Regions from separate parts of the Homo sapiens genome. Here region 1 is linked to region 2. Evidence: fine-mapped expression QTL. A gene starts in region 2. The other region holds a variant in brackets. All regions are shown on one strand. Distances are from middle to middle. Region 1 holds the start of LOC102723765 (a long non-coding RNA gene). Region 2 holds the start of AHNAK (AHNAK nucleoprotein).

Region 1 (16,258 bases), 120 kb before region 2:
GACCATCTACTCAACATCACAGACTCTACTCAACATCACAGACTCCACTTGTCCAACAGAACCAGTGATCCTGCCCCAGTCTGTTCCTATCTCAGTGAGTTCTGGCTCCATCCTCCCCGCTGGGCTGCACCAGCCTGAGGAGCATCCGCGATCCTTCCTTCTCTAGCCAACCCAGGCTACCTCTAAAGGGCCTCTGGAATCCTTCACTCCAAGTCCACAGGCAACACCCCCATCCCTGCCTGTACAGCCCCCGGGGCCTCCTCTCTGGCTCCCAGCCAGACTCCAGGGCCCCCACAATCCCTTCTCCAACAACCCAAAGGAATTCTTCTCAAGTGCAAAGTCCCTCCCCATCCTTCAAAGCTTTCTAGGGCTCTTATTGTAAAATCCTAAATCCTGACGATAGATAGTGGCCCCTCACCAGTCTTTCCTGTGCTCCTCCTTCCCACGGCTCCTTCATTCTGCTCAGTCCCCACACACACCCCCACCTTCCCTGCCCTCAGTTTTTAAAAAGAGCCAAGCCCCTTTCAACCTTAAGACCTTTGTACCAGCCACACAGCCCTGGCTGCTCAAAAAGTGTGGCTGATGGCCAGGCACGGTGGCTCACGCCGGTAATCCCAGCACTTTGGGAGGCCAAGGCGGGAGGATCACCTGAGGTCAGGAGTTCGAGACCAGCCTGGCCAACATGGTGAAACCCCATCTCTACTAAATATACAAAAAATTAGCCAGGTATGGTGGTGCGTGCCTGTAATCCCAGCTACTCGGGTGGCTGAGGCAGGAGAATCACTTAACCTGGGAGGCAGAGGTTGCAGTGAGCTGAGATCGTGACACTGCACTCCAGCCTGGACAACAAGAGTGAAACTCCATCTCAAAAAAAAAAAAAATTGTGGCTGATTGGTTTTTAAAATTGCTCTAGAGCAAAATGTGCAAAGAATAGAACTCATCCTAAAGATGCATCCATGTGGATATAAAGACCCCCAAATCCCCGGCCAGTTTCATGGCAGCCAGCCCCCTGCTGGGCCACATTATCCACAGCACCTAAATAGAAGCGGAGGATTGGCTGGGCTTGGTGGCTCATGCCTGTAATTCCAGCACTTCGGGAGGCTGAGGTAGGAAGATGGCTTGGGCCCAGGAGTTCAAGACCAGCCTGGCAACATAGTGAGACTCCATCTCTACAAAAATAAAAATAAATTAGCCGAGTTTGGTAACGCATGCCTGTAGAGCTGGCTACTCTGGAGGCTGAGGCAGGAGGATCTCTTGAGTCCAGGAGTTCCAGGCTGCAGTGAGCTATGATCATGCCACTGCACTCCAGCCTGGGTGACAAAGGTGAGACCCTGTCTCAAAAGGAAAGAAAGAAAAAGGTGGAGGACTGCAGAGGGGCTGCAGGAATCGGAAGGGCGTCGGCAGAGGGCACGGAAGGAGGCGGCGGGTTAGAGACGGAGCTCTCCAGTTCGAGCCCCTCCATGGAGCAACGTGGTCCGGTGGGCCTTGTGCCCCGCGGCCACTAGGGGGCAGCATCGTCCACAGGGTCCTGGAGCGGACGCGCTGTCGGGGCTGAGGCACCCAGAGCTCCGGCTCTGAGGATCTGGTGTCATCCGTATAATTTTTTAAATCTCGGCCGTGCGCGGTGGCTGACTCCTGTAATCCCAGCACTTTGGGAGGCCGAGGCGGGTGGATCACCTGAGGTCGGGAGTTCGAGACCAGCCTGTCCAACATGGTGAAACCCCATCTCTACTAAAAATAAAAAATTAGCTGGGTGTGGTGGCGCGCACCTGTAGTCCCAGCTATTTGGGAAGCTGAGGCAGGAGAATCGCTTGAACCCAGGAGGCGGAGGTTGCAGTGAGCCGAGATCGAGATCGCGCCACTGCACTCCAGCCTGGGAGGTTGCAGTGAGCTGAGATTGTGCCATCGCACTCGAAAAAAAAATAATAATAAAAAATATATATATATAAAATAAAAATCTCATATTTTGAAAGTTTTAAAATCCGAATTCTGAGGGAAAACAGGGGCAGCCACACAAACCATGTTGCCACCCGGTTGAACCCTGCCAGGGAGTGATGTGTCAGCCTTTTTGGGATTAGCAATAATTCCATTCCCAGACGATTTCAAGGGCAAGGTTCATGGAATCTAGAACTTGAGATGGCCCCAAAGGTGGAGAAGACCATGCGGAGCTGGCGGGGCTGGCCTTTGACCTCCACCTGCCCGGTTTCTAAAGTCCCCAGGCAGAAACCACAACCCAATAACCCTTATTGATTGCTTAGGTGCTGGCAGGCGCTTTCGCAATCTTTTTTTTTTTTTTTTTTTTTGAGATGGAGTCTTGCTCTGTCTCCAGGCTGGAGTGCAGTGGCATGATCTCAGCTCACTGCAACCTCCAACTCCCTGATTCGAGCAATTCTCCTGCCTCAGCCTCCCGAGTAGATGGGATTACAGGCTCCTGCCATCATGCCTGGCTAATTTTTGTGTTTTAAGTAGAGACAGGGTTTCTCCATGTTGGCCAGGCTGGTCTCGAACTCCTGACCTCAGGTGATCCACCCGCCTTGGCCCCTCAAGGGCTGGGATTACAGGCGTGAACCACCGCGCCCGCCCTCAGCCAGTAGTGGTTTTTTGTTTGTTTGTTTGTTTGTTTGTTTTTGAGACGGAGTCTTGCTCTCTCGCCCAGGCTGGAGTGCAGTGGTGTGATCTTGGCTCACTGCAAGCTCTGCCTCCCGGGTTTGCACCATCCTCCTGCGTCAGCCTCCCGAGTAGCTGGGACTACAGGCGCCCGCCACCACGCCAGGCTAATTTTTCGTATTTTTAGTAGAGATGGGGTTTCACGGTGTTAGCCAGGATGGTCTTGATTTCCTGACCTCGTGATCCACCAGCCTCGGCCTCCCAAAGTGCTGGGATTACAGGCGTGAACCACCGCGCCGGGCCTTGCAATCTCTCAATTACTCCTCACACAACCCAGATTCCAGAGCCCGTGCCCCAACCCCTGCCCTGCAGGTGGTGGTGGGATCCCTAATTCCAGAATCCCCAGAGCCAAAAATCCAAATGATGGTGATGAGCAAAGTCCACCTACCCCCAAACACACACTCACACACACAAACTAGAAAGCCACCGTGCCCTTCATTTTCAGCCACGAAGGAGGGGATCTGATTGTAAAAATTCCGGAGCAGGTTGGGGGACTGGCAACTCCAAAAGAGATTCCTTGCCTCCGGTGGGGCCTTGATGGGGGCTGCCCAGCTCCCTCTCCTCCCCCACTCCCTCCCTGCTGAGGCATCACATTCTCCTTCACCAGGTCATCCTAAAGCACATACCTTTGCGCTGGTGGGCCATCCGCCTGGATGAGTATTGTTTCATCGGATAAGCTTCCAGAGCCATAAAAGGTTCAGAATTTTAATTGCCTATTCACAGCCAAGGGAAACATTTACCCAGGGCCAATGCAAGGCAGGTATCTGAGGAAAAGAAGCACAATTACGGTGCAGAGAGGCTTGAGGCTGGGGACAACACTGCAGGAATCACTGTGGGTGATTCACAAGAATGTGGGCTATGCCAATCCACAGAAATGGGCGTTAAATTTTAAAACAGCAGAATGCAAAGATAAACTGATTGCAACCACAGGAAGAGCATGTAACTGTGTGATGCATGTTGACAGAAAGCAGGAAATTCGAGAAATGAAGGCACTGTTCACTGGGTGCTTTTCTGTCTGTGTGTAGTTACTCACACCAGTTACTCGTGTATTATAGCATGGGTCTGTAGACTATGGCCAGCAGGCTAAGCTCAGGCTATGGCCTATTTTTTTTTTTTTTTTTTTTTGAGACGGTTTCTCACTCTGTGGCCCAGGATGGAGTACAGTGGCGCAATCTCGGCTCACTGCAACCTCCACCTCCCAGGTTCAAGTGATTCTCCTGCCTCAGCCTCCCAAGTAGCTGGGATTACAGGCGCATGCCACCATGGCTGGCTAATTTTGTATTTTTAGTAGAGACAGGTTTCACCATGTTGGTCAGGCTGGTCTTGAACTCCCGACCTCAGGTGATCCGCCCACCTCAGCCTCCCAAAGTGTTGGGATTACAGGCATGAGCCACCGTGCCTGGTCATTTGTTTGTATTCTTAGTAGAGACGGGGTTTCACCATGTTGGTCAGGCTAGTCTCAAACTCCTGACCTCAGGTGATCCACCCGCTTCGGCTTCCCAAAGTGCTGGGATTACAGGCTTGAGCCACCACGCCCCGCTAAGACCACATTTCTTGATCACATTGTCAAGAAAACTGAATCTGAGTGAAAAACTTTTTGAAAGTATCTGTTAACCCTGAAATCTGCAACCAAAGGAAACTTACTCTGGAGGAAAGCTAAAGCAGAATGGTAGTTGTCAAACACCGCCATCACGTTGCAAAATCCAGGGGCTTGTGTCAATGTGCCTGGACTAATTGATCAGTAGGAAAGCTGCCGTTGTGTATGAGAGACAGTTGAGGTTAGCCTGACAGAAATATCTGTAAATGACTCATGAGGCAGGAAGAAGAAGCAAAACCAGCCTTCATTAGCCTTATCACGATGATATGGATAAAATTATGTCTAGTTTGCAGCTGATGCAAGCCCTGCTGTTTTCGAAAGCCAAGGGATTTGTGGGCAGTAATCACCATAGGGGTGTCTGCCACTCAAAATGGCTTCAGATAGACGATCAAGAGAAGTTTTATTGATGATGATGAGGCCACACAAACAATGCATTCTGAAACATGTAATTAGGGGATGTTCCTCCCAAGCACTTTCAGAATACACCAACAGGCACATGGGGATAATGTGAGGATGAATCATCAGTAGTTAGCCACCCAACATATTTCCATGAGCAAACTAAAATTATAAAACTATAGTACATGCAAAAAAATCTGAAAATAGACTGGGCACGGTGGCTCACGCCTATAATCTCAGCACTTTGGGAGGCCGAAGCAGGCGGATCACCTGAGGTCGGGAGTTCGAGACCAGCCTGACCAACATGGAGAAACCCTGTCTCTACTAAAAATACAAAATTAGCCAGGCATGGCGGTGGGTGCCTGAAATCCCAGCTACTCGGGAGGCTGAGGCAGGAGAATCGCTTGAACCTGGGAGGCAGAAGTTGCAGTGAGCCAAGATCGCACCATTGCACTCCAGCCTGGGCAACAAGAGCAAAACTCTGTCCCCAAAAAAAAAAAAATCTGAAAATACATTTAGCTAAGCTAGCATGGGAATTGATTGCCAGCTTGGGAATTGATAAACCGGGGGTTTGGAACTCAGATTTGTTACCCCATCAAGTGAATGGATTCCCAGCTAATCACAAGAGTCTAGTTAACTCTGAAAATACCTGCAGTTATATGCCCATAGCTGTAACTGCCCGGTGGGTTCACCTTGCTCGCTGCCTGGACGGAGCCAATTTATCAAGACAGGGGAATTGCAGTGGAGAAGGAGTAATTCACACAGAGCTGGTGTGTGGGAGACTGGGTTTTATTATTACTCCAAACAGTCTCCCTGAGCATTCGGGGATCGGGGTTTTTAAAGATAATTTGGCGGGTAAGGGCTTGGGAAGCAGGGAGTGCTGATTGGTCAGGCTGGAGATGGAATCCTAGGGGGTGGAAGTGTGGTTTTCTTGCTGTCTTCTGTTCCTGGGGAGGATGGCAGAAATGGTTGAGCCAGATTACCAGTCTGGGTTGTGTCAGCTGATCCATCGAATGCAGGGTCTGCAAACTATCTCAAGCACTGATCTTAGGTTTTACAATAGTGATGTTATCTGCAGGAGCAATCTGGGGAGGCTCAGACTCTTGGAGCCAGAGGCTGCATGACCGCTAAACTAAATTTCTAATCTTGTAGCTAATTTGTTAGTCTTGCAAAGGCAGACTGGTCCACAGGCAAGAA[T/C]GGGGTTTTTTTTAGGGAAATGGCTATTATCAATTTTGTTTCAGAGTCAAAACATGAACTGAATTCCTTCCCAAAGTTAGTTCAGGCCTATGCCCAGGAATGAACAAGGACAGCTTAAAGGTTAGAAGGAAGATGGAGTCGGTTAGGTCTGATCTCTTTCACTGTCATAATTTCCTCAGTTGTAATTTTTGCAAAGGCGGTTTCACAGCCACCCTGTGTGTGTAACCACGAGGCAGATACCTACAGAGCTTCCTTTAGAGTTCCCTCTTAGGGCTGGGTGCAGTGGCTCAAGCCACTGTGGGAGGCTGAGGCAGGCGGATCACCTGAGGTCAGGAGTTCGAGACCAGCCTGGCCAACATGGCAAAACCCCATCTCTACTAGTAATACAAAAATTACCCGGGCATGATGGCGCATGCCTGTAGTCCCCGCTACAGCTGAGGCAAGAGAATCACTTGAACCCAGGAGGCAGAAGTTGCAGTGGCAGAGGTTGCAGAGGCGGAAGTTGTAGTGAGCCGAGGTTGCAGTAAGCCGAGATCACACCACTGCACTCCAGCCTGGGTGACAGAATGAGACTCCATCTCAAAAATAAAAATGAAAAAGAATTCCCTGTTAGGCCCCTGTCACAAAAGTAGGTACTAATCAGCCCTGGGACAGGATAGAGACTTGATCAGAGGCTCCCTGGGAGCTGTGGAAGGAGGAGCAGGCCTTGGGGCATCAGGAGAGGAGAAAGGGTTGCTGGGCTGGGGGATCTCCTGACCTCCTGACCTTAGGCGTCCAGTCGGTCTCTGAGTCCATCTCAACTTACATGGAATTGATCCCTTTATTTTTTTTTATTTATTTATTTTTGAGATAGGGTCTCACTCTGTCACCCAGGCTGGAGTGCAAGGTTGCAATCACTGCTCACTGCAACCTCCGCCTCCCAGGCTCAAGCAATCCTCCTCCCTCAGCCTCCTGAGTAGCTGGGATGACAGGCGCACACCACCATGCCCAGCTAATTTTTGTATTTTTTTTCATAGATACGGGTTTTCGCCATGTTGGCCAGGCTGGTCTCAAACTCCTGGACTCAAATGATCTGCCAGCCTCTGCCTCCCAAAGTGTTGGGATTACAGGCGTGAGCCACCGTGCCCAGCCCTTATCCCCTTCTCTTGACCCTATTGCCAATTCCAAGCCTTCACCATCTGTGACCTGGATCATTGCAAACAGCCTCTACATTAGTTTCTATGGCTGCTGTAACAACTTACCACAGACTTAATAACTTAAAAACACACAAATTTATGATCTTCTCGTTCTGGAGGCCAGATGTCTGAAATGCATTTCACTGGGCTAAAAACCAAGGTGTTGGCAGGCTGCATTCTTTCTGGAGTCTCCAGGGGAGAATCTGTCTCCTTGTTTTTTCCATTTTCTAAAGGCCACCCGCATTACTTGGCTCATGGCCCCTTCCCCATCTTCAAAGTCAGCAGGGCAGCCTCTGCAATTCTCTCTCCGACACTGATCTCCTCTTCTGCCTCCCACTTCCATTCATAAGGATCTCTGTGATTACACTGGGCCCATCAGATACTCCAAAACAACCTCCCCTCTCACGGTCAGCTGATGAGAAACCTTCATCCATGTGCAACCCTAATTCTCTCTTGCCAGGTAACCTAACACATGCACAGGGTCTGGGGATTAGGACGTGGAGATCCTTGAGGGGCCGTTAATCTGCCTCCTAAATAGTCTCTAAGATTTTAGTCTTACTTCCTTCCCATGATTGCCAAAAATCAAACAGGAAGTTCATGCTTTTGCTTAAAATCCTTCCCTCTTCCTGGTCCCCTGTTGGATAAAGTCCAAACCCCTCACCCATCATCAAAGGCTCCTGGAGATGGTGGCCCTGCTTCCCACTGTGGCCTCAAATCCTGCTGCTTCCCACCTACCCTTCACTTTGAGGGTGCAGCAGTGGATGATGCTCGGAAATAAAACTGCCCTCTGAGTAAGGCTTGTCGATTCATGTCGAGGCACAGACGTTCACATTTGAAACAGGCAACAAATCCATGCCATTCACACTTCCACACTTTTGCAGAAACAGTTCCCGCTAACTGAAATGCTTTCCCTTCCCAAAGTCCCTGGAAGAACCAAACTCCATCCTTCATGACTCACTTGGGACATGCTTATACTAAAAATTGTTTCATTATTTATCTAAAATGCACACTTAACGGGCATACTGTATTTCATTTGCTAAGTCTGGCCCCCTTCAGATTCTTTCACGACTTAGTCTGTGGGCTCTTTCTCCCTGTTCTCCCTACCCAGCACTTTGTGCCCTGAGGTTCAGGGGCTCTTTCTGCTGCTGAGCTTCCACGCCCCTAATCTGGGGCATGTATTTACAGTGGGATAAATCATGTATTTATCTTACTATAGCATGTTTGCTTCTAACTGTTGCCTTCTCTAGAATGTGAGTCCTATGAAGGCATGATTCACATTTTAGTTATCTTGCCACTCATTGTAGAAAAATTAGAAAACCCAAGAAAGCAAAAGGAAAATAAATCATTCGAATGTACATCTGCGTCAAGTACTTGATCAGAGCAGCAGGATTCTACTTTTGACCCTCTAGTGGAAAAATTGAAACCAAGGTGGAAGCCAAGACAGTAAATTAAGTATATTACAGGACTCGAGACCTTTTTTTTTTTTTTTTTGAGACGGAGTCTCACTTTGTTGCCATGCTGGAGTGCAGAGGTGCCATCCTGGCTCACTGCAATCTCCACCTCCCGGTTCAAGTGATTCTCCTGCCTCAGCCTCCCAAGTAGCAGGGACTACAGGCGCATGCATGCCACCATGCCCAGCTAATTTTTGTATTTTTAGTAGAGACAGGGTTTCACCATATTGGCCAGGATGGTCTCGATCTCTTGACCTCATGATCTGCCCGCCTTGGCCTCCCGACCTTTTTATTCCATCTCTCTGCTTCCAGGAGGACCATATCAATAACCAAGTGGCCCCTGAGACATGACCCTAAACCCCCAAAAAGACCTCCCATTACTCTGTGGCTGACCCATTTGAGGAATTCATATGTTCTGTGGGCAGGAAGTTCTAACCAAAATGCAAAAAAAGTTTGAAGTTCATCGTATTCCGTTGTTCCCTGCTTTTCTGTTTCTAGGTAAAGATGAGATTAGTTGGCCAGGCACGGTGGCTCACCCCTGTAATCCCAGCACTTTGGGAGACTGAGGCAGGTGGATCACCTGAGGTCAGGAGTTTGAGACCCACCTGACCAACATGGAGAAACCCCATCTCCACTAAAAATACAAAAATTAGCTGGGCGTGGTGGCGGGTGTCTGTAATCCCAGCTACTTGGGAGGCTGAGGCAGAAGAATCGCTTGAACCCAGGAGGCAGATGTTGCAGGGAGCCGAGATCACGCCATTGCACTCCAGCCTGGGCAACAAGAGCAAAACTCTGTCTCAAAAAAAAAAGAAAAAAAAAAGATGAGACTCGTTTATGAAACTGGATTCCTCTTAAACCACAAATCCATCTGAATGGTATTCATTTCATGCTTGATAAATTTCAAGACCTGATTATTTTGCAATATCAATGTTGATAAAAGTTAAATATTAACCAGATAATCGAAAGTTATCCTTTAACGTCTGCTACCATAGAATAAGAATTTCAGACTGACCCCCAGTGACAGGAAACTTTGAAAAGGCGTGTGCCTGAAGAAACGTATCGATTGGCATGTTAAAAAATACATGTATTGGCCGGGCATGGTGGCTCATCCCTGTAATCCCTGCACTTTGGGAGGCCGAGGCAGGTGGATCACTTGAGGTCAGGAGTTTGAGACCAGCCTGGCCAATGTGGTGAAATCCCGTCTGTACTAAAAAAAAAAAAAAAAAAAAAAAATACAAAAATTAGCCAGGCGTGGTGGCAGGCCTGTAATCCCAGCTACTGAGGCCGAGGCACGAGAATCACTTGAACTCAGGAGGTGGAGGTTATAGTGAACTGAGATCATACTACTGCACTCTCCAGACTGGGTGACAGAGTGAGACACTGTCTCAAAAAAAAAAAGATTACATTTCTCCTTTTTTAGATAAATAAAGAGGAAAGAGAAAGGGGAGGGGGAGCAAGGGGTGTAAGAGGGAGAAAGAAAAGAGAGAAAGGAGAGAACGCGCGGGGGTTCTCGGTCATGTGGAGGCAGCAGTCATGTGCTGACTCTGAAAACTGAAAAAAAAAAAAAAATAGTGACAGCAAGCTGCTGCCTGTGGCCAACTCTCCCAGGGATTCTCACAACGCCAGGGAAGGGAACAGAGAAAACCACAAAGGTTGACACAAGAACAGATGCTTGATAAATGTTTATTGGATAAACGAGCGAAGGATAATCACCTGAGCACCATAGTTGCCAAAGCCCCCTCTAGTCCCAAACCTAAGCCCACACTCTGTCCCCTTGCAAGTAAAGAAATGCACCAAGCAGGGCTTATGCAGCAGCCCTCGGTCTGGCCTGGCTGGAGCTATAAACATGCATGCTCCGAAAAGCCGCCTCGCGGAAGGTATTCCTTTAACTGCAGGTGTTTGTTGCCCTTGGCACAGCAATATGTAATTTCCCATTTTTAGAACAATGCTCCAAAGAACGGTCACAAAAACAACCTTAAGAGGGGGTGGTTTTCTTCCTGGCCGCTTCTACAGTCCTGTAAAACAACAACAAAGAGATTTATATTCAACACACTATTTGCATCTCTCCATAAAATCAGAAGATGGTTCGTTAACTTTGCACCAACTGAAAGAAGGTCCCCCCACTCCTTGCTAGGGCATCCAAACAAATGCTTGCCTCTGGAAGGGATAGATTTGGAAAGGATCCTGCTGTTGGGTCTCTTTTGGTCTTGCCACGCCTCCCTCTGTGTGGTTTCTGTGCGGCAAGGGTGGAAAGGAAGCTTGCATAAAGCCCGAGTCTGTCCTTTTGGTGCCCCCCATACAAGCCCGAGACCAGAAGAGGACAGTGTGTTCCCAAGAACATTCAAATAACAGAGGAAGGTAGGAACCGTGAAAACAGCTGCCACCTCCAGCCTCAGCCATTAAGAAATCCCTTTCATTATCATCTCCAAACTGACTTTCTCTCTTCCCTTTCCTCTTCATGAACCCTTTCTGCTTCATGAACCCAAGCAACTGGCTTTGAGACTTCATGGCCCTTCACCTTCCCTCCCTGTCGTCTCCCAGAGCCTAACTACTACATCTTCTGTCCCAGCCCAGTGCCTCCTCCCCGAGTCACACCCAACTCATCCCCATCGGACTCCCATGAATGCGCAGGTTGTCCTCTCATGGGCCTCCTGGCCTGGTCTCTCTCACCTCCCACGTGGGCCTGCATGCCCCAGGCTTCATCTTACACCTCCTGCGCTCAAGAAAGTTCAGCAACTCCTTTTCCAACAGAAACAAATCCAGCTTTCGGGCCAGGCGCAGTGGCTCACGCCTGTAATCCCAGCACTTTGGGAGGCCGAGGCAGGCGGACCTCCTAAGGTCAGGAGTTCAAGACCAGGCTGACCAACATGGTGAAACCCTGCCTCTACTAAAAAGAAATACAAAAATTAGCCGGGTGTGGTGGCACACACTGTAATCCCAGCTACTCAGGAAACTAAGGCAGAAGAATCACTTGAATCCGGGAGGCAGAGGTTGCACAGTGATCCAAGATCCTGTCACTGCACTTCAGCCTGGACAACATGGCAAGACCCTGTCTCAAAAAAAAAAAAAAAAAAAAAAGCCAGCTTTCTTAATGGGACCTCATCTGGAACCAGGCCTCCTTTCCTACTTTATCTTCTACTAGTCCCTACACAAGTTTCAAGCACCAACCAAAATCACCTGCTCACCCTTCCCAAACTTTACCTTGGCTCCTAAAAACTACCTCCTGCCCTCCCCCTAATTGAGAATGACCTTCCTGGTCTTCTCTCTGTGACTAAATCCTACCCATTTTTGAAGACTCAGCCAAATAATACCACCATCTGACCACTCTAGTTCAAAATGCCCCCCTTTCCTTGCTGAAGTCCTGCAATTCTGCCCCATTTATTCACTATATGTTACACTTTGTGAAGAAACCATTCACATAACTTCTTTCTTCCAAATGTGTGTTGAATTATTTAGAGGGCAAAGGTGCTAAGCCTCTTTAAGAGGCTTGGAAGGAATTAGGCACCAGGAAAGTGAAAGCTTTATTTATTTATTTATCTTTTTTTTTTCTTTTTGAGACGGAGTCTCGCTGTTGCCCAGGCTGGAATGCAGTGGCGCGATCTTGGCTCACTGCAGGCTCCGCCCCCCGGGGTTCCCGCCATTCTCCTGCCTCAGCCTCCCGAGTAGCTGGGGACTACAGGCGCCCGTCACCTCGCCCGGCTAATTTTTTTGTATTTTTAGTACAGACGGGGTTTCACCGTGTTAGACAGGATGGTCTCGATCTCCTGACCTCGTGATCCGCCCACCTCGGCCTCCCAAAGTGCTGGGATTACAGGCTTGAGCCACCGCACCCGGCCTATTTATTTATCTTTTTAAGAGATGGGGTCTTACTATATTGCTCAGGCTGGCCTTGAACTCCTGGACTCAAGCAATCCTCCTGCCTTGACCTCCCAAAGTGCTGGGATTGCAGGCTGGCCGCACCCAGCCAGTTTTGACATTTCTACACTACCTTTTATTGCACACTTGCTATGAACCTGTCGCTGAGCTGAGCACTTCTTACATATGACCGCATTTAACTCTCACAGTGAGACTAGAAGGGAAGTACCACTGTCACTTTTCACAGACCAGGAAACAAAGGCTTTGAGAAGTTAAATAACTACCCAAGAGCCTCACTGTTTAAAAGGAGCAGAGCTGGAGTTCAAGCCTGGCTCACAGTATTGACAGCTCTAGCCCATCCCCTTTCATTCTCAGCGAATTCACAACACAGAACAGTTAGGATGAACAGGGTGGGGAGGAAGTTGCAGGCTCTTTTCCTGATTGGAACAAATTCATGGAAAGGGTTCATAAAGGGGCTGGGCTTCCCAATTCATGTTTTTGTTTTGAAGAAGGTGGGGGAACTTGGGGTTCACACAATGAAGTTCTCTTTAAAGAATGGTGTCTGCAACATCTGATGCTCCGGGGGAGTAGCAGGCAACACAGAGAGCTTTGATGCTGTACCAAGATTCACTCTCAACATCCCAAGCCAAGTGGCAACAGTGCAGAATATGGCATTCAAGTCTAACTCCCACACTTACCAGCTGTGATACTCAGACAAGCTATTGTCCCTCTCTAAGCTTCAGTTTCCTCCTCTCTAACAAGAAAAGAATATCATTTTGACAGGTGGTTTGGATAGATTAAGGCAAATAATCTCTATAAAGCAACCAGGCACATATTGGGTGCTCCATAAATTATTATTGTTATTACTTCTCTTGGACATGAAAATCTGCATTTCTTTTCATTAAAAAAAAAAAAAAAGTATAGGCCGGGCGCAGTGGCTCACGCCTGTAATCCCAGCACTTTGGGAGGCCAAGGTGGGTGGATCACGAGGTCAGGAGATCGAGACCATCCTGGCTAACACGGTGAAACCCAGTCTCTACCAAAAATACAAAAAAAAATTAGCCGGGCATGGTGGCGGGCGCCTGTAGTCCCAGCTACTCGGGAAACTGAGGCAGGAGAATGGCGTGAACCCAGGAGGCGGAGCTTGCAGTGAGCCAAGATCGCGCCACTGCACTCCAGCCTGGGTGACTGAGCAAGACTCTGTCTCAAAAAAAAAAAAAGAAGTATAACATACATTCATCAGAGTACATAAAGCACACAATGGACAGCTTGATAATCATTTTCATAAATAGGCATTTCTATAACCACCACTCCAGGCCACATAAGGAATATTTCCAGCACCCCAAAACGTTCCCTCATGCACCCTCCCAATCCATATCCCCACCAGACAGAATCATGATTTGACTCATTATAGATCAGCTTTGCCTCTTTCTGAACCATATATTAATGGAATCAGAGCATATAATCTTTTCATCATTGCATAGTACTCTTATATGAATAGATCACCAATTTATTTCTCCAATCTTCTGTTGATGGGAATTTGGGGTGTTTCAGGTTTGGAGAAACTTCTTTGAACATTTTTGTACATACATTATTGTCAGCATAGGCACTCAAACCCCTCAGCTTTGTTTTGTTTTGTTTTGAGACGGAGTCTCACTCTGTCTGCCAGGCTGGAGTGCAATGGTGCAATCTCAGCCACTGCAACATCTGCCTCCTGGGTTCAAGTGATTCTCCTGCCTCAGCCTCCTGAGTACCTAGGATTACAGGCACTCATCTGCCACACTCAGCTAATTTTTTTTGTATTTTTAGTAGAGACGGGGTTTCACCATATTGGCAAGGCTGGTCTCGAACTCCTGACCTCAGGTTATCCACCCACCTTGGCCTCCCAAAGTGCTGGGATTACAGGTGTGAACCACCACGCCCAGCCCAAATCCCTTACCCAAATACTTAGGAGTAGAATTTCTGGGTTGTACAGCAGGCATATCTATAGCTTTAATATAATCTGCCAAACAATGTTCCCAGTGGCTGTACCTCTTCCACACTCCCCACAGCAATATGCAATAGTTCTAGTTGTTCCATATTCTCAGCAACACTTGGTATTGTCAGTCTTTTCATTTTAGCTATTATGGTGGGTGTGTAGTAGTATCTTTTTGTGGGAGTTTTGTGTGTCTATGTTGTTCTTTTTTTTTCTTTTGCATTCTGTCACCAAGGCCAGAGTGCAGTGGCATGATCATAGCTCACTGCAGCCTCAAACTCCTAGGCTCAAATGATCCTCCCACCTCAGTCTCCCAAATAACTGGGACTACAGGCTTGTGCCACCAGGCTCAGCTAATTTCCCAGCGCATTTGCATTTTCTGATGAATAATGATGTTGAGCACCTTTTCACAGTGTATTTGGCCATCTGGGTATCCTCTTTTGTTAGTGCCTGGTCAAGTCTTTTTCTTTCTCTCTTTTTTTTTTTTTTTTTCCTGAGACTGAGTTTTGTTCTGTCTCCCAGGCTGGAGTGCAGTGGTGTGATCTCGGCTCACTGCAACTCTGCCTCCCGGGTTCAAGCAATTCTCCTGCCTCGGACTCCCGAGTAGCTGGGATTACAGGTGCCTGCCACCACGTCCAGCTAATTTTTGTATTTTTAGTAGAGACAGGGTTTCACCGTGTTTATCAGGCTGGTCTCGAACTCCTGACAGGTGATCCACCTGCCTCGGCCTCCCACAGTGCTGAGATTACAGGCATGAGCCATCGCACCTGGCCTCTTTTTCTCATTTTTTTAATTGGGTCATTTTTAGTTTTCTTATTGATCTGCAGTACTTCAAATATTTTAGAAACGAATACTTTATCAGACATATGTATTGCAGATATATATCTTCTCCAGGTCTGAGGCTTGCCTTTTCATTTTTTTAATGGTGCCCTTGGATGAAGAGAGGATTTAATTTTGATAAAGTCCAATTCATCGATTTTTCTTCTGTGGTTAGTGCTGTTTGCATTCTGTTTTAGAAATGTTTGCCCATCCCTAAGGCCAGGAAGACCTTCTCTGTTCTCTGCTCCTTTTAGTCTTGCTTTATGTGGTATCTTCCTCTGGCGTGGAGACAACTGATTTGTTGTTATTTCAATGAGGAGCAAAGGTCTCATAGAAAAACTAATCATGACCGGCTCACATGAGAATGCTCATATGATAATGACTTCCTGGGCCTTTGGACTATGCAGCCTGCCATCCTAAGGTTGCTGTGTAGCATCAACAGGTACCACTGCTGACCTGGCTGCATTGCTGAAATCCCACAGGAGCGGCCCTTAACAGAGGTGGCATCTTCCAAAGTGAACCAGGAAGGAGAGGGATGGACACCCATCCCTCTCAGTTTCCCTATTTTTTTTTTTTTTTTTTTTTTGAGATGGAGTCTCGCTCTGTCACCCAGGCTGGAGTGCAATGGCGTGATCTCCGCTCACTGCAAGCTCTGACCACCCGGGTTCATGCCATTCTCCTGCCTCAGCCTCCCGAGTAGCTGGGATTACAAGCGCCCGCCACCACGCCTAGCTAATTTTTTTTGTATTTTTAGTAGACACGGGGTTTCGCTGTTTTAGTCAGGATGGTCTCGAACTCCTGACCTTGTGATCCGCCCACCTCGGCCTCCCAAAGTGCTGGGATTACAGGCGTGAGCCACCGCGCCTGGGCAGTTTCCCTATTTTTCTCATCTGTAAAGTGAATGCTGGTTAGTACTCTAGGGCTAGCACCTTAAACTCGACCCAGCCCAGCTATGGCCACTTTGCAAACACATCCTTCCTATCCTGGCAACTTTGTCCAATCTCCTTCATAAACCCTTTTCCTATGCATTTTGTTTATCCCTAAATGTTCCTTTTCATTATCATTTGTCTAACCATTTATTATTTGTAGTGCATGTGTGCATCTGTCTTTCTTTTTGGTTTGTTTT
Region 2 (16,258 bases):
AGTCCCAGGGCAGAAGTCCCTTTTGAGGCCCAGGACAGATGCAACCTACGTGGTTCCTGAGGAGGGGAGAAACCATCCTAAGTAGACACCGATCCAATAGCCCGTGAGGACGGGAGCCATTGGACCCGAAGCTGCAGGTTGGCCCTGGCAGGGCACCCAGTGGCTTCCCGGCCAGGTGGGGCTGCCAACCACCCTGCCTGCTCTGGCTGTGGCCCTGCTGTCCTGGCACAGCCTGGAAGGACTCCCCTCTCATCTGACCTGGGCCATTCAGTTCCGCGGAAGGGCATGGAAATACTGAAGGGAATACTGAAGGAGGGGCGTGGGATACTGTGTAGCCAGGTTTCCCATTCTCTGCATTTGGGTCCCAGCCCTCAGTCTCTCCTCCACCTCTGGAGCCTGTATCAAGCCCAAGTGGTCCTTTCTTCTCCTCCCACACAAGTTAGGTTAAGTCAGGCTTTCCCTGGAGGCTGAGGGCTCTGCCCTGTTGCTAGCCAAAAGAAGGTCTTTGGAGCTTTGGGGAATTCTGCACGATTCAGCCAAGTGCCATAAGCCTTCAGAGCTAGGAGAGACCTAGAGTTGTGCCACCCAACGCAGCAGCCACATGTGGCTATTTAAACTTAATCAATTAAAATTCAGTTAAATTAAAATTTTAGCTTTGGCTGCACTAGCCACATTTCAAGAGCTCAACAGCCACATGTAGCTACTGGCTACTATATTAGCGTGGACACAGAACACTTCCCCCACTGCCGAGAGTTTTATGGGATGGCACTGCCTGTTACTTAAGGATGGAGAAAGTAAGGTCCAGAGAGGTGAGAGAATGGGAGTGTGCTGGGACCCTAGTCCCAGAGCCTGCTAGCACACAGCCCGGTGGTCCACCCAACAGCCTCCCTCGTGATAGCAAGAAGCGGGACAGAGCTAGGCGTGGTGGCTCATGCCTGTAATCCCAGAACTTTGGGAGGCCAAGACACACTGATCGCTTGAACCCAGGAGTTTGAGACCAGCCTGGGCAACATGGCAAAACCCTATCTCTATAAAAAATAAAAATGTATTTTTTTTAAATAAAAAAAGAAGGAGCAGGGCCAGAGTGGAGACCCCCTAAGGCAGAAGACTGCTTGGAGGGCAGAAAAGAATGAGATGGCGAGGCCGCTCCAGCTGCAAAGGTGAGAGCACGTATGCCTGACGCTGCGGGACAGACTGTAATTCAGGCCAGAAGCAGCAAGAGAACAGCCCATCCTGTCACTTCAAAACTGCAAAGAGGATGTGCCGAGCAGCAGGGCTCTGCCCATACCCTGCAACTGGGGACAACGCCAAGTAGACGCAGAACTCCAGGAAGCAGATTCTTGACCCCAGCAGATGGCCTCTGCCAGGGGTGACCTCCAGAGGAGCCTCCTTCCTCCACTGCCCTCGGAGAACAGTGCCCCTTCCCCGGAGGAGCCAGTATAAAGACAGCCAGGATGGAAACCGGGCCAACTGCTGCAGCAGCTAGAGACAGCCCTGCAGCCAGCGTCAGTGTGGAGATGACAGGAATTGAAACACACACTCCCCCAGAGACAGGCCACAGGCCTCAGTGCCCAAATGCACCAAACCTGAGGACAAGATACACACCACAGGGGCCCATGACTGTGCATCCACCCAGCACAGGCGGGACACAGGAGGCAACCCTCCGAGGGGAAGAAAATCACCCCATCCGTGGTAGGGAGGGTACCGGCCACAGTGAAACTTCCGCCCAGCATGGCAGCACGCACATAGGCCAATCGACCCACCACACACACAAGGCCAAAGAGAAGCAGTCCTCATCCCAGGAACAAAATGACTCATGCCCAGAGTTAGAGACCCCTACCAGAGGGGAAGCCCCCAACATTCGGAACCAGGAGGAGAGGGAGGCTATTCAGAGAGACACACCCAGAAGACAGTATGGTCTGCTCTCATAAACACTCAACAGGAGGCAAAGAGGAACAGAAAGTTCCATGTTGAAAGAAAAAAAAACCCCACACACAAGTAGAAAGAGAATTCTGCAGAGCGCTCTGATGTGCCAGGGACTGTGTTGGCAACATCCCATGCCTGGGGTCTCATTCAACTCCCAAATGATGATGCTATGTCAAAAGAATTAATATCCTTATTTCAGAGAAGTGAAAGCAGGCCCAAGAGATAAGATGACTTGCCCAAGTGTGAGACAGAGTTGAAATGCAAGCCCAGGAGTCTCTGACCCCCAAGGCCCTTGTTCCAAAGGAACAAGGGTGACATCCCTTCCAGGGCCTGGCCCTCTGAATGGACCCCCGAGGATGCAGCTGCCAGGCTTGTTTAGGAAAAAACATTATGCCACATTCTAACCGGAGCAGAAGTGCGCAGACATCTCAGAGTCTAAGCTGGCATTAACAACTTTTACAAACCCACCTAGCTGATTCTGGGCAGTGTGCAGGGAGGAGGGGCAGGTTAGGGAGGTGGAATTACCAGGAAGAATTAGATGAACATGTTGCAAAACACATGCAACTTGGGCACCTTCAAAGAAAGGCACACAAGCACACACACACACATACACACCATTAGTACACGGAGACCCTCAGCCCCATTCTCCACTCTACACAGCCCAGGGCAGCCTGCAGCCCCAGCCAGCCTTCACCGGCTCACAATAGACAGTTGTCCTGCAGGTCCCTATGCCTGTTTACCTGGCACCTGTGTCCCTTGAGCCTGCACCTCCCCTTGTGTGTGTGCACCTGCCTGGCCTCCTCCCTGCTCCCTGCCCTTAGGAGAGGGAGGCGCCAGCCCAGCCACAACTCCCACCAGGAGGAAGTTTTTCCATCCTTGTCATTCCAGCCCTCCCCTCCCCATCACCCCCTTCCCCTGGCCCCTCACATCATGCTGACTTCCAGGGCAGCCCTTACACCCCAACCTCAGCCAGCTGGTTGCTTTCTGACTCTGCTGTGACGCCTTTCTCCATCTCTCTCTACCCCAGCCACGCACAGCCCCATCCCATGCTACAGTGAGCTTGGAAGCCCTGAAGCTCCAAGCTCTCACTTCCAGCAGCGAGGGAGATTCCCTCTTCCCTCCCTGGCCAGGAGGGACTCTGCAATCCTTGTGAAAGGGGGCTGGGGACAGCCTATGATCCAGTGGGGAGTCCCCACACCTGGACACAGAAGCAGGGAAGAGTGGGCCTTTACCCAGAACCACTGGGATTAAGACACCAACTCTGAGGGTGGCGTCCTATAGGAGAGGGGGTGGAGCAGAACGCTTGGTCTTGCCCTGTGGGGTAGATTACAGTTTGGAAGCTGCCTGTCTGCCCCACCCAAGGCCGGGATCTGGGGAGGGCGCTGCTTGCTCTCCCCCCAGCGGTCGGACCACGCTACTGCAGGGGCGTGGGGCCAGGCCGCTCCGGCTCTGTCGCTGAAGAGCTACCCCCGAGCCCCGCCAGGACACGTAGCTGTAGACGGGATCAGCTCCAGGCACTTCCCCTTCCCCCAGAACCTCCGCTCCAGCCCCCGGGGGACCGGGCAGGATGCCCCTCCCTGACAGGCCGTGTGCAGTGCCTTGCTTAGCCTGCTCAGCTGGGGCCTGCACCCCCAAGGCTGTCCTCAACCTCCCAAAGGCTTCTGGACACAAACTGCGCGTGCGGACATGTCCAGGACCGAGAAACTCACTTCAGTCCTTACCTACAACCCCTACGGGCCCGCAGGAAACCTCCACCACCAGAGCAGAATGCCACTGCCATCCTCTGCCTCCAAGCCCGATGACAACGCAGGCAGAGGTGACACATCCAGGCACGCCACAAGGGGAAGACCTTCATTCACAACCAGTGGGATACTCTCTCACAGGCAATGACACACATCTCACTCAGAGACAAGCTGTGACATGGTGGTCACAAGGACCTAAAGCCACAGTGGGACGACACCTGCAATGCTATCAGTGACCTACCTAAGACTGCCAGCGACAGCTCAGCCACAGCCCTGGTGGGAACTGAGGCCAGCAGGGAGGAAAAGGGGCTTCATTCCTTCGGAATCCTCTTGTGGCCCACCCACGTGCCCCCCACACTCCCTCGGGCACACCCAGGAACGCTGGAAATTGCTCGTGCTCAGGAAGCCTTGGGAGTCCCACCGGATGGCCTGAGCCCAGGGAAATGCCAGCCTGGATGAATCGATGGGGGACGAAGAGAAGTCAGAAGGCCCTCCATCCCTGCCACTGCCACCGCCCAAGCAGCACATTCTAAATCCTCCCCAGCGGCCATCACCCTTCCTCAAACCTAAGCGTGCACAGCACGGTGCCAGCCCAGCTCCGGGGAGAGAAACTTTGGGGCCTCGGGAATGGTGGGGGAGAGAGCCACACTGTTCCCATAAGGAGTAGGACTAGCTCTCCCGGTCTGTCTCTCTGTCTGTCTCCAGGCAGTTCCCAAGTTCTAAAGAAGGTGGTGACCACACCCCAGAGCCCCACACACCCCTCCGCCCCCACGGCTTTGCCCCAACCCCTCAAACCAGCTCCTCAGGCTCAGGGTGACCGGCTCTGCCAGGACCCACCAGCCAATTCCAAGTCGAGCAAAAGAATCCAGCCTGGCAGCACCGCCACCTTTCCCCAGGACTTCCTGAGGGCTAAGATGACTCCGGGGACCCCCAGCCAACTCCGTACCCTGGGCTGACGCTGGACCTTCTCCCTCAACAGGTCCCTGTGTCCCACCCCTGGCCCTGGACCATGTCTGGCTGCCACAAGTCCTCAGCTCCGAGGGGTTGGCTCCTCAAGGAGTTCCCGGACCAGGACCCCTGAATCGCTGCTGTGGGCCTCCATATCAGCCCGCATGACTTATGTGGCTCCCCATGTGTCCCTGTTCTCTGACCAGTGTCCCTGTGCATAACCTCTTAGGGACAAAGGCTTTAGAGAGGGGCTCAGACACCCTCTAACCCACATTCCCACAGCCCCCAAACCCTGCGACCTCTCCTAGCTCCACTCTTACCCTCCCTAGCTCCTCTCCCACCCTCCCTCACCCCAAAGCTCACAGCTCAGAGCAAAGAGGTGCCCCTAACTTGGGGGCTCCCCTGTCCTCCCCATTCTGCACAGGCCACTATCCACGCGGTGGGGGGTGGGTGACCCCGCTGTCCCTAAGGACTGGAGAAGGAAGCTTCCCCCCATTCAGCTTCTGAAAGGAAGTGAGTGCCACACCCTGCCCCTGGGATTTCCCTCACGGGGAGGGGATGAAAGCGAGATCTCTACCCTGAATTACAGCCAGTATAGGTGCAGGGGCCCTTAAACGCCTTCCCCCACTCTCAGCTTCACTGCTGCAGCCCCTCACTGTATTCCACAAAATCAACCCAACACCTACCATGCACTAGGCTGTGCTGGGACGGGCAAGCAGAGAGCAGGAGCCCTGCAATCCGAGGTTGGATTCTAATGAAGACGGGTTCGAAACCAGTATTTACTGAGCGCCCAGCGCTGTGCTGGAGACACAGAGGTAGATATCTCGGTCCCTTTTCCTCCGGAGACTCCGGAGGTCTAAGGACCTGACTGACTTGGGAGGCTCCCACACTGCCTTTCCACAAATCCCCTCCACAGAGCAGGGCACTCTGCAGCGACCGCACGCTCCCTGGGAGCACCTCACTGCCACGGTCGCCGCGGCGGGAGCCACACCCTGCGAAACCGGCAAGCACACACATCGCACACAACCCTCAGTGGCCTCATTGTGCAGAGGGGCCAGAGCCGTTCCCCACCTTGTTGTGGGGCCTCGGCTACAGCTGAGAACACCCATCTGCCCCCTCCGCACCCCTCCCAGCAAGGGGCACAGCCAGCCCTGTTTGGGCCCCTGGAGTCCCTCATGGTCAGCGCCGCCAAGGGGCTGCGCCCCCACATCCCGGCCTGGGCACTGCTGGGGGGCGACCAGCCCTGCCAGGGACGGCCCAGGCCCTCGCACACTGCACACACACACCCCCTCCCCTTGCATGGGAAAGCCTTACATAACACAGCTCTGCACACACCCTAAGCACGCTGCCTTTCCAACTCTAGGCGAGACCTCGCTTCGGGCCCCCTCTCCTGGCGCGCACCGCTGGAGCGCAGGGTTCCAGCGAGCGCAGCTTAGCCCTCCTCCCACGCCAAGCCCGGCTCCTGCCCCCAACTCCCACACACAGCCCCTTCCTCCTCCCCTTTGCCCCTCACCACTCCTCCCTGAGTTCTGGTTTGAATTAGTCACCGGCTCCAACCACCACATTCCTCAGGCTGCTGGCGCCGGGCCAGGCTCTGGGGCGGGGGCCATCCCGCCCGGACGGGTTTGGGAGTTGGGCGGGGGGAAAGCGCCGCCTCCGGAGGGGAAGGGGCGGTCCCGAGGACTGGGCCGCCGCAGCGCACCCCCCTCCTCGCCCACCTCAGCATAGGAATCTCCCTAATTTTGTCCCCCTCCCCACCCATCCCGCTGGGAGGCGCATTGCAAACTTCCAGGTTCCGCGGCCCGAGAGGAAGGTTTTCTGGAGCGGGGAACGCGGAGAGGCAAGGCTAGGGCGGGGCAGCTGGAGGAGGCTGAGGGGCTGGTGGTACAGAACAGGGTGGGGCCTGGACGACTCGGGACGCGGTTAGGGGCAGAGGTGCAGGGAGCGCGGAAGGACAGCCGAGGGGGCGCACGGTGCGGGGTCGCGGAGGCGCGGAGGCGCTGGGGGCCGCGGTGGCGATCTCGGAAATTTCCCCTCCAGTAAACATGGGATACGAACGGAGCAGCCCCCGAGCCACCGCCCCATGCAGGGAGAGGAGGTGGGACAGAGGCCACCAGGCCCGGAACGGGGCGCCCTGCCTTGCAGTGGAGCCAACAGTCCGCCCTCCGGAGAAATAAAGAGTGGAGCAAAGCACTTCGGAGCGATTTTCCAACTTTAACCAACTTGCGCCCCAACTCCAGAGGCAGAACTCCGCTCCCAGAGAGCGACGCGTCGCCGCCCCGGGTGGCCCCGCTTGCTCCAAACTGCTTGAATCCTCACAGTGACACCCCCAACAACGCGCCCTGCCGGAGCACCGCAACCCACCTCCCCGCGACCCGCCCTTGGTGCCCCGGACCCCGATGGCGCCACGGTGCGCCTGGCGCCCCTACCTGAGGGCTCAGCCCCAGGGCACGGCCATAGCCGGCGCGAGGCCCAAGGCTGCGGTGCTGCGGCTACTGGCGGCGACGAGCCCCGTTCCGGGCGGGTCTGGCAGGGCGGGCGGTGCAGTCCCCGCGGCAGAGCAGCTCCGAGTGGCCGGGCCCCCGTGCGCGGAGGCGGCTCTTGTAACTCCGGCTCGGGCGGGCGGGTCTGCCCGGAGCTGTGGGGAGAGGGCGGGGCCGGGCGGGGCCGGAGCGGGGCTGGGACTGGCGAGCGGGGCAGACCCTGGAGGGACCCGGGAGTGGGCTGCTGGGGAGGGGGGCCGCTGGGGGACGCGGGGACATTCTTTCCCCCCCTCCCCGCATCCACTGCCCCCTGTCCTGTCCCGGACCTGGACCTGCTCTCCAACATGTGCACTGTGTGGCTTCATTGGCAAGAAACTCCTGCAGGCTCCCTGGGCTCACCCTCACAGCTGGAACTGCGAATCAACTTATTTTGCAGGAAGGGCCTGGGGGCTCTGAAGGTGGCTGGGTGATTCAGCCGCGACCGTCAGCTTGCTCCGGACCTTTGAGTTTTCTCTCAGCTTAGGCAACTACACTTCAGATCCCAGGCCCCAGCCTCCTTGCTTGGTTCCCAAGCTCCGTGCTGCCGCGCCCATTTCTCGCGTTCTCTCTTTCTGGGGGCCCCTCCGTCCATATCCGCACAGAACTGGCTTGGATTTCCACCCCCCAGGAGCCGGGGTCACCAGTGCCTCGCGCACCGCGGTGCTGCGCAGGCCGCGGGCATACGGGGGTGAGGACCCCGGGCGTTGGACAGCGGACCCGACGCCCACCTTCCTCTCCAGACTCCCGCCCCCAGGAGCCAGAGCCCCAGCGCTTCCTCTGCCTCCCATTCCTTCTCTGAGCGCCGCCCCCGCCTCCCCACTTGCGGGACGCTGAGTCTCCTAATTTACAGCGATTTCCCACAGCCACTTCTAACTACATCGAGATTTTATTAAACGTTTAATGATGGGGTGCGGGGGCCTTCTGGCTACACACTCCCCTCCACACTCCCTTTCTCTTCTCCCTCATGAGTCCTTTTATCCTCCCTCCTAGGTGGCCACCCACTGCCCGCTCCAAGCCAGTTTCCCCTCCTTCCCAAATGCTAAGGAAAGAGAGACCCCAGGCTGGGGAACTAAGGAGACCTGGCCAAGGCAGGAGCGCCCTCCTTGCTGCAAGATCATGAGTGGGCTGGAGCTGAGACCAGCTCGGCCCTGTCCTCTGAAATGGCAAACATGTTTACAGGCTAAAAATACCCAGCAGTCAACTCTGCTGCCAGCCCTGGGGGCTGTGTCCAGGTCCAGTTACCGGCACAGAGTACAGGCCGTGGGGGAGGGAAGAGACAGCCAGAGGAACCACAGACATGGGCACTCATATAATGGACACAGAAAGGTGGAGCCGCATGTGCAGACATCCAGACAGGCAGAGACATGTGAAAACACAAAGCGGAGACTTGGGCACCAGCATTTTCTCTTGCTCTCTCTAATACACACACACAGGTGCCCAGATAATGACTCAACCCCATGGCAGAGGCAGCCTCGCCACAACACATCCCAAGCACACAGTCACAGACTCACACTTTCCCAAGAATCACCTGCTCCCCCATTTTGTTCTGCACCCCTTTCCTAGCACCTACCTTATTTAAAGAAAAAACAAATCTAAAACTTTTGAGCTATAGAACACTTAAAAAAAAATTACCAAGGCCAGGCGCGATGCCTCACACCTGTAATTCCAGCACTTTGGGAAGCCAAGGCAGGTGGATCACTTGAGCTCAGGAGTTCGAGACCAGCCTGGCCAACATAGTGAAACCCCGCCTCGACTAAAAATACAAAAATTAGCAGGGCATGGTGGCGCAGCCTGTAATCCCAGCTGCTCGGGAAGCTAAGGCAGGAGAATCCCTTAAACTTGGGAGGCAGAGGTTGCAGTGAGCCAAGATCGTGCCACTGCAGTCCAGCCTGGGTGACAGAGCGAGACTCCATCTCAAAAAAAAAAAAGTACAATAAAACACAGACTTCTCCCTCCTCCCCTATCACAGTCCCTCTTCCCAAAAGTAACCATTGTTAACAGTTTACCAAAGGATTTTTAACTTTATGGAATGAATCATCATCTCGTTCCTTGAAAGAGCGAATGTTCCCAGTGCATATTAAAACAGGAGTTGATTCACACCTAGGTTGGAAACACAGGGTATCTGCAAAAAGGGCTAAGGGGGCGTGGGGGGCTGCTAGAGCAGAAAAGGAAGAAGAGCACGGAAAGGCGTGGACGCTGTGTCTTCGCCTCGACTGGGCTAGATCGGCCCCCCAGGATCCAAACAGCAGAGGCCAGAGTCCCAGGCTCAGAGCCAACTTATCTGCTCCATTGTTTGTTCTGGCCACCCTCTTGGTCAACAGGGAAGAAGGCAGGAGGGAGAGGTTGGTTTTTGAAGCAGCCCCAGAGCAGAGATCACTGACCAGGTACTTCATTCAGGGATATGAATGTCAAGATTACCTGGTCGGGGGGTAGTTCTGAGGACTGGCTCTTGTCCCATTCCAGACTGGAGGGCTAGAGAAGGCTTAACCTCAACCCTACCCTCTAAAAAACCATGATCCTGACCGGGGGCGGTGGCTCACGCTTGTAATCTCAGCACTTTGGGAGGCTGAGCGGGGGCAGATCATGAGGTCAAGAGATCGAGACCATCCTGGCCAACATGGTGAAACCCCGTCTTTCCTAAAAATATAAAAATTAGCACTTTGGGAGGCCGAGGCAGGCGGATCACCTGAGGTCAGGAGTTCAAGACCAGCCTGGGCAACATGATGAAACCCCGTATCTACTCAAAATACAAAAATTAGCCGGGCATGGTGGTGTGCGCCTGTAGTCCCAGCTACTCGGGAGGCTGAGGCAGGAGAATCGCTTGAACCCAGGAGGTGGAGGTTGCAGCAAGCTGAGATCGTGCCACTGCACTCCAGTCTGACAACAGAGCGAGACTCTGTCTAAAAAAAAAAAAAATGATCCTGCAGGCTGGAACAGAGCTGGGGTTTCCTAAGACTGCCACCTCAGCCCAAGGGAGGGGAATATTTTCAAAAGTTTTCAGTGGTGTTAAGTGGAGAAACGCACACTTTTAGAAACTTCTGCCAACTCTTCTCCTTCTGCCCGCTGGTGTAGCCTCCCCCACACCCCCTCCCAAAACTACCTTAATATGATTGTGTCTGATCCTGCAGCAGCTACTTTCGTTGGTTTTTTTTTTGTTTTGTTTTGTTTTGTTTTGTTTTGTTTTTTGAGAGGGAGTCTCGCTCTGTTGCCAAGCCTGGACTGCAGTGGCGTGATCTTGGCTCACTGCAGTCTCCACCTCTGGGTTCAAGTGATTATCCTTCCTCAGTCTCCCAAGTAGCTGGACTACAGTCGTGTGCCACCATGCCTGGCTAATTTTTGTATTTTTTAGTAGAGATGGGGTTTCACCATGTTGGCCAGGGTGGTCTCGAACTCCTGACCTCAGGTGATCCCTGCCCACTTCAGCCTCCCAAAGCGCTGGGATTACAGGTGTGAGCCACTTTGTCAGGAGCTACTTTCATCTGTCAGCTCATTTAATCCTTGCACACCCTGGGAGGGAGGCACTTAGTGAGGAATGGTCTCAGAAAGGGTTCGTGATTTACCTAAAATCACACAACTCACAGAGGCAAGAGTCAAAGCTTCCGCTAGCATTTAAGCCTCATGAGGACAGGGTTCTTTCTTCTCTGCTGTATGCTTTGTGCCTAGATTAACTGATTTTTTGTTTTGTTTTGGTTTTTTGCTTGTTTTTTTTTGAGACAGTCTCACTCTGTCGCCCAGGATGGAGTGCAGTGGAGCATTCATGGCTCACTGCAGCCTCAACCTCTCAAGCTCAAGTGATCCTCCCACCTTAGTCTCCCAAGTAGCTGGGACTACAGACACACACCATCATGCTCAGCTAATTTTTTTTTTTTTTTTTGGTAGAGATAGGGTCTCACTATGTTGCCCAGGCTGGTCTTGAACTCCTGGGCTTGAGCAATCCTCCCACCTCAGCCTCCCAAAGTGCTGGGATTATAGGTGTGAGCCACCGCACCCTGGCCCCTCATGCCTAGAGCACTGACTGACACATAGCAATCACTCAAGAGCATGTTTCAAATGAATGAATGAACTCCAGGTATAACTGGCTCCAAAGCCCTTGCCTTTTCTACAATAGATAGCATCCTGCATCCCAGGCTGTCACAACTTCCTCTGGCTCTCAGCCCCCAGGGAGCAATTCCTCTACTTGTGGGTCTTTCTTGCAGCTACCCAAACATTTATTGTGTGTCCAATATGGGGTTGGGGAACTGTGGTGGTGGTGGAAGCAATAGAGACCTTGGCAAGATGGAATCCCAGCAAAAAGCTCAGTCCAGGCGGAAACGGCTCCGATACCCCTTTACCTTGTCCTTTGAATTCCTTGGAGGTCCTATGCCTCCAGAGAATTGGAGTTATCTTTCCTACCAGGTAATTTACACAGCTACTCCCCCGCCAGCACCCCCCCGACACACTATGTTTTGGGTGTTTTTGTTGTTTTGTTGTTGTGGTGGTGGTGGTGGTGGTTGTTTTGAGATGGAGTCTAGCTCTGTCGCCCAGGCTGGAGTGCAGTGACACGATCTTGGCTCATCTTGGCTCACTGCAACCTCTGCCTCCTGGGTTCAAACGATTCTCCTGCCTCAGCCTCCCAAGTAGCTGGGATTATAGGCACGCGCCACCACGCCTGGCTAATTTTTGTATTTTTAGTAGAGACGGAGTTTCACCATGCTAGCCAGGCTGGTCTCGAACTCCTGACCTCATGATCCGCTTGCCTCAGCCTCCCAAAGTGCTGGGATTACAAGCGTGAGCCACCACACCTGGCCTGTTTTTTGTTTGTTTTTACACACCATGTTTTATAAGGAGTATTAAGGAGTTCTTTCGGTCCCTACTTTGCAAAGAAAACCTCCATCTTCTCGAAGGTTTAGACTCCTCTGTGATATAAAGTAAAGGCTTTCCTCTTATAAGAGGGAGGTCAGCCCTGCCGCTAGTGCTCCACCACCATTCAGAGGGAGCTGGTACCACAGTGCTCCACACGCACTGCCAAAGCTGGATGAGCTCTAGGACTTGTCATCACAGGGATACCCCAGCTTCCCCAGAAGTGACACTGCCTCCCTGGGGAGTGGGGGAGGTTCCCTGATATGTACCTGTTTTGCGTGTGTGTGTATATGTCAGTTTGTGTGTGTGTGCGCGCGTCTGTAATGAACCTTGGGCTCTTCTGTTGCCAGGCAACCTGCCTCTATTTTGTTCCTATTATGCCTGTTTCCATAGTAACCACAAAGGGGAGCTCTGTGGGCAGGCCCCTGGCCAGGGGATTCCCCTTCCCCTCCCTTCTCTCCACAGTCCCCTTTTCTGAAATCAGCATGTTACAAGGAAGAAAAGAGGTTGACTGCTCAAAGGGTAATCTCAGTTTCTGATCCCAGAAGGCAAATGAAGTGTGTGGTCTGTTTGCAGTCTCTTTAGAAGCAGACTTTTCCCCCCATGAAGGTTCTTTTGCATGATATTCTTAGAAGCAGAAAAATGGGCTGTGCCTGGTGGCTCACGCCTGTAATCCCAGCACTTTGGGAGGCCAAGGCGGGTGGATCACTTGAGGTCAGCAGCTCGAGACCAGCCTGACCAACCTGGTGAAACCCCGTCTCTACAAAAAATACAAAATTAGCCGGACGTGGTGGTGCACGCCTGTAATCCCAGCTACTCGGGAGGCTGAGGCAGAAGAATTGCTTGAACCTGAGAGGCGGAGGTTACAGTGAGCCGAGATTGCGCCATTGCACTCCAGCATGGGCAAGAAGAGCAAAACTCTGTCTCAAAAAAAAAAAAAAAAAAAGCAGCAGCAGCAGCAAAGAAATGACTGTTAACCCTTCTTAGCACCATCTGGGATCTCCCAGACCCCGCCTCCACCCCATACACACACCAGCCCAGGGATTAGCATCCCTGCCAAACAGGCCCTTCTCCATTCACTTCCGTCACTTCCTAATCTGTCATTGTCCACCCCACCCCCCAAAAGCAAATCTATCTGGTGATTCTGGAATCCAAACATTATTTCCTAAGCAATTCTCAAGCCCCAAACCCTTAACCCTAGCCGAAAATATAAAGCCAAGTAAAATCATCCTTCCCCAGCTCAATTCAAATCCCAGCCTGTATTTAAACTTCAAGCTTCAAATAAGGAGTTCCTGAATTTCTTAGATCAGAGAGCTTTGATACACAGAAACTCTCCAATTACACTCAGTCCTAATGAAATCTTCAAGCCCAACCAGAACCCAAGTTAAAGCTGGTTAGAGAACAAGAGACATGAGGCTGTCTCCAGAGTACCGTCTGGGAGGAAAGAAGGCAAAGAAAGACTGTCCAGGCAGGTGGAAGGGAAAGAAATTGGGCAGGGAGAGTGGGGCAGGTGGACACGATGGGTCATGGCTGGATTTCAGGCAGAGTTAGGGGTGTGGGAATGCTGTGGGGCAATAAGAGGAGATGCAGACCTGAGATTAAGGAAAAGAAGCGACAAGACATGAGGCTGTGAAGGAAGGAGGGAGGGAGAGAGAGAAAACAGAAGAGCTCAGCACTGAGCTAAGGACTGGGCGGGCTGAGTTGTAAACAGGAGCCGAGGGAGGGAGTTGGAGTAAACGGAGCAGCCAACGCCCCAGCCAGCTCCCCTCCCCAGTGGGGAGCAGGGAGGGAGGGGCTGAGGAAGCGGGGAACACCACCTCCTCACCCCTTTCTTGGAATCTGCTTTTCTCCTGTCCTTTCCAACTTCCTCTGCCTTTCCCCCAGCTTCCTGGGGAAAGAGAGACCAGCCTGGGTTTCCCTCTCTCCTCTGCTTACAGTTCCCTAAGTCCAGTTGAAGGAGATCAGGCTGAGCAGGGAAGGAAGGGCCTAGGCTGCCCAGAGCCTGAGTCACCACATAGTTGAGGTTCCTGTCACTCGAAGTCCCGCCTCTGTTACACTCCGTGCCCTGTGCCCGCCCCAGGACTTGGATCGCTACATCTGACCCTGGCCCCAGGGCTGGCTCCACTTCCACGCTCCTTACCAAGCTACCCTTACCAAGCTACGGGTGCAGGAAGCCTTTAGATGCCTCGCTCTCCCTGCCCCTCCACACTTGGTATGCTGTGTCCACCACCCTTATCCCTCAGCATTTGAGGGCAGCATCCTCCTGCTCAGCTTTGGAGCAGAAGTGACTCAGTGAGTGACTGCAAGGATTGTGGAAAAGCTCGGATGCACCCTTGATAAGTCACTTCAACTCTCTGGGCTCCAGTTTCCCCACTGGTAAAATAACGGGTTATTAGAGACGGTCTCTGGCAGTCCCTGCAAGAGGTACATTCTGTATGTCTGAGTCAAAGAGATGGGTAATTACTATTGAAGAGTGGGATAAAAGGGGCGTGTTTGCTAACCCCTGTCCTAACAGTAAGAGTGGGTAGGGTAGGGCAGGGCTGGGCACAGGACCTGCCACCATAGGGCAGCCAACACCCTAGGCATCTTGGTGACTCAGGTCCCACATGGAAGAAGAGCCGGAAAGCACCCCTTGGGTCCCCTGTGAGTCAGGGGAAATGCGGATCTCCCTGAAGGATGACTGCCTGGGTTCCCGCTATAACCAACTATCCTTCCACCTTGAAAGTCTCCCAGGATGGGTACCGTAAGCTCATCATTCCACCTCCCTGGCCTGCTCAGCAGCTTCCACCCCTCCTGCCTGACCTTGGCAGCCCTTCTTCCCTCAGCCCTGAACTCTAGAGCCCTCCTTACCCTCTGACAGCTCCCCCTGCCCTACCACATTCCCTCCTTCACCCCTTGGCTCTGCCCATCTTCACCATCCACCCCATCCCAGCAGAGCCCGCCAGATGATTGCAAAAGGGCTGAGCCAGCAGAGAGGCCTTCACATGACAGCTGTTCCTGCTGCAGAGGGGAGGGGGCAGCTGGGAGTGGAGGCACATTCCATGGGAGATCCTATCAGAAATAGCCCCAAACCCTAACTGACCATCTGCCCCAATGATCTGCACATCGCCCATTCAATAGGCTTGCCTCAAAATCCTGAGGAAATCAAGAAAACAAAGAGGGGTGGAGAAGGGAGGGGCCTAGGGGAGTGAAGAGAGCCCAGGAACATTGAGACGGGGTCGCCAGGACATCACCACTGAGCCAGTACCACCAGCCCAAGGTATTCTCCCTCTAATGGGAGATGCAACTGATGGCAGTGCTGCCCTCCAGCACCCCCCACCATACCCTACTCCACCCATCCCTTGGGTGCTGAGGCACTGGGACACCCCAGTAATTCCCCTGGAGTAAAACAACAGCCTGCTCTGGGAGCCATGCCAGCCTGACTGGAGCAAACAGACAGGAACAGGTGGCAGTTTCTGTAACCTTTCAGGAGCACCAATGTGAGCTCCACAGCACTAGAGGAAGAGAACGGGGTGGGAACCCCAGAATCACATTCAAACATACAGGAGCAGGCCAGGCACGGTGGCTCACGCCTGTAATCCCAGCACTTTGGGAGGCCAAGGCGGGTGGATTACCTGAGGTCAGGAGTTCGAGTCCAGCCTGGCTAACATGGTGAAACCCCATCTCTGCTAAAAATACAAAAAAAAATTAACAGGCATGGTGGCACACACCTGTAATCCCAGCTACTTGGGAGGCTGAGGTGGGAGAATTGCCTGAGCCCGGGAGACAGAGGCTGCAGTGAGCCGAGATCATGCCACTGCCCCTCCAGCCTGGCCAACAAAGAGAGACTCTGTCTCGAAAAAAAAAAACAAAAACACAGGAACACAGCAAGTGGGGAAAGTCAGTGCCCTGCAGTGCCCTATAGGTACACTGGTTGGAGGAGCTGGGGAAGCTACAGCACCCAGAAAAATCCATTTGATGTGTGGAGGGAAAGTTCTGAGTTGACAACAAAGAGTGCCCGTTGCCATGAAAACCACAGTATTAATTTCAGAAATGACTGGGTGGAGCCTCCAAAGCACTTCATTCCCCTCCCTTCAACATTCTAGGCTTCCCCCACCTTTCAAAAGGGGAAGTGGCACATTTGGGGCATGTGGGCAGCTGGTGGGATGGGTCCGACCCAGTGAGAGCAGCAGCTGTCCAGCTCCAGCTCAAAGCAGGGCACGAAAAAAAGGAAACAATATAAGTCTTTCTTGGAAGAACTTTAAAGGTTTTTAACTTTTTAATAAGTGACTTAAGCAGAAG

What was found.
Region 1: its variant is fine-mapped to the expression of AHNAK in whole blood (TOPMed, PIP above 0.99).

The regions. Positions count from the first base shown.
Region 1 is chr11:62,423,394-62,439,651 of GRCh38, forward strand. LOC102723765 (a long non-coding RNA gene) reads right to left here and starts at 3,530. Exons shown (of 4, transcript XR_007062699.1): 1 at 3,294-3,530. It also overlaps a transcript of AHNAK not described here. RefSeq lists enhancers at 1,219-1,308, 1,349-1,418, 2,768-3,315, 10,680-11,181, 11,182-11,681. The variant T/C (reference allele first, on the strand shown) is at 5,858.
Region 2 is chr11:62,539,615-62,555,872 of GRCh38, forward strand. It overlaps AHNAK (AHNAK nucleoprotein), which reads right to left and starts at 7,192. Exons shown (of 5, transcript NM_001620.3): 1 at 7,046-7,192. RefSeq lists enhancers at 1-90, 5,699-6,209, 6,210-6,720, 7,299-7,829, 11,557-12,362 and 4 more and silencers at 5,864-5,993, 6,524-6,643, 6,654-6,703, 6,984-7,053, 7,174-7,343 and 1 more.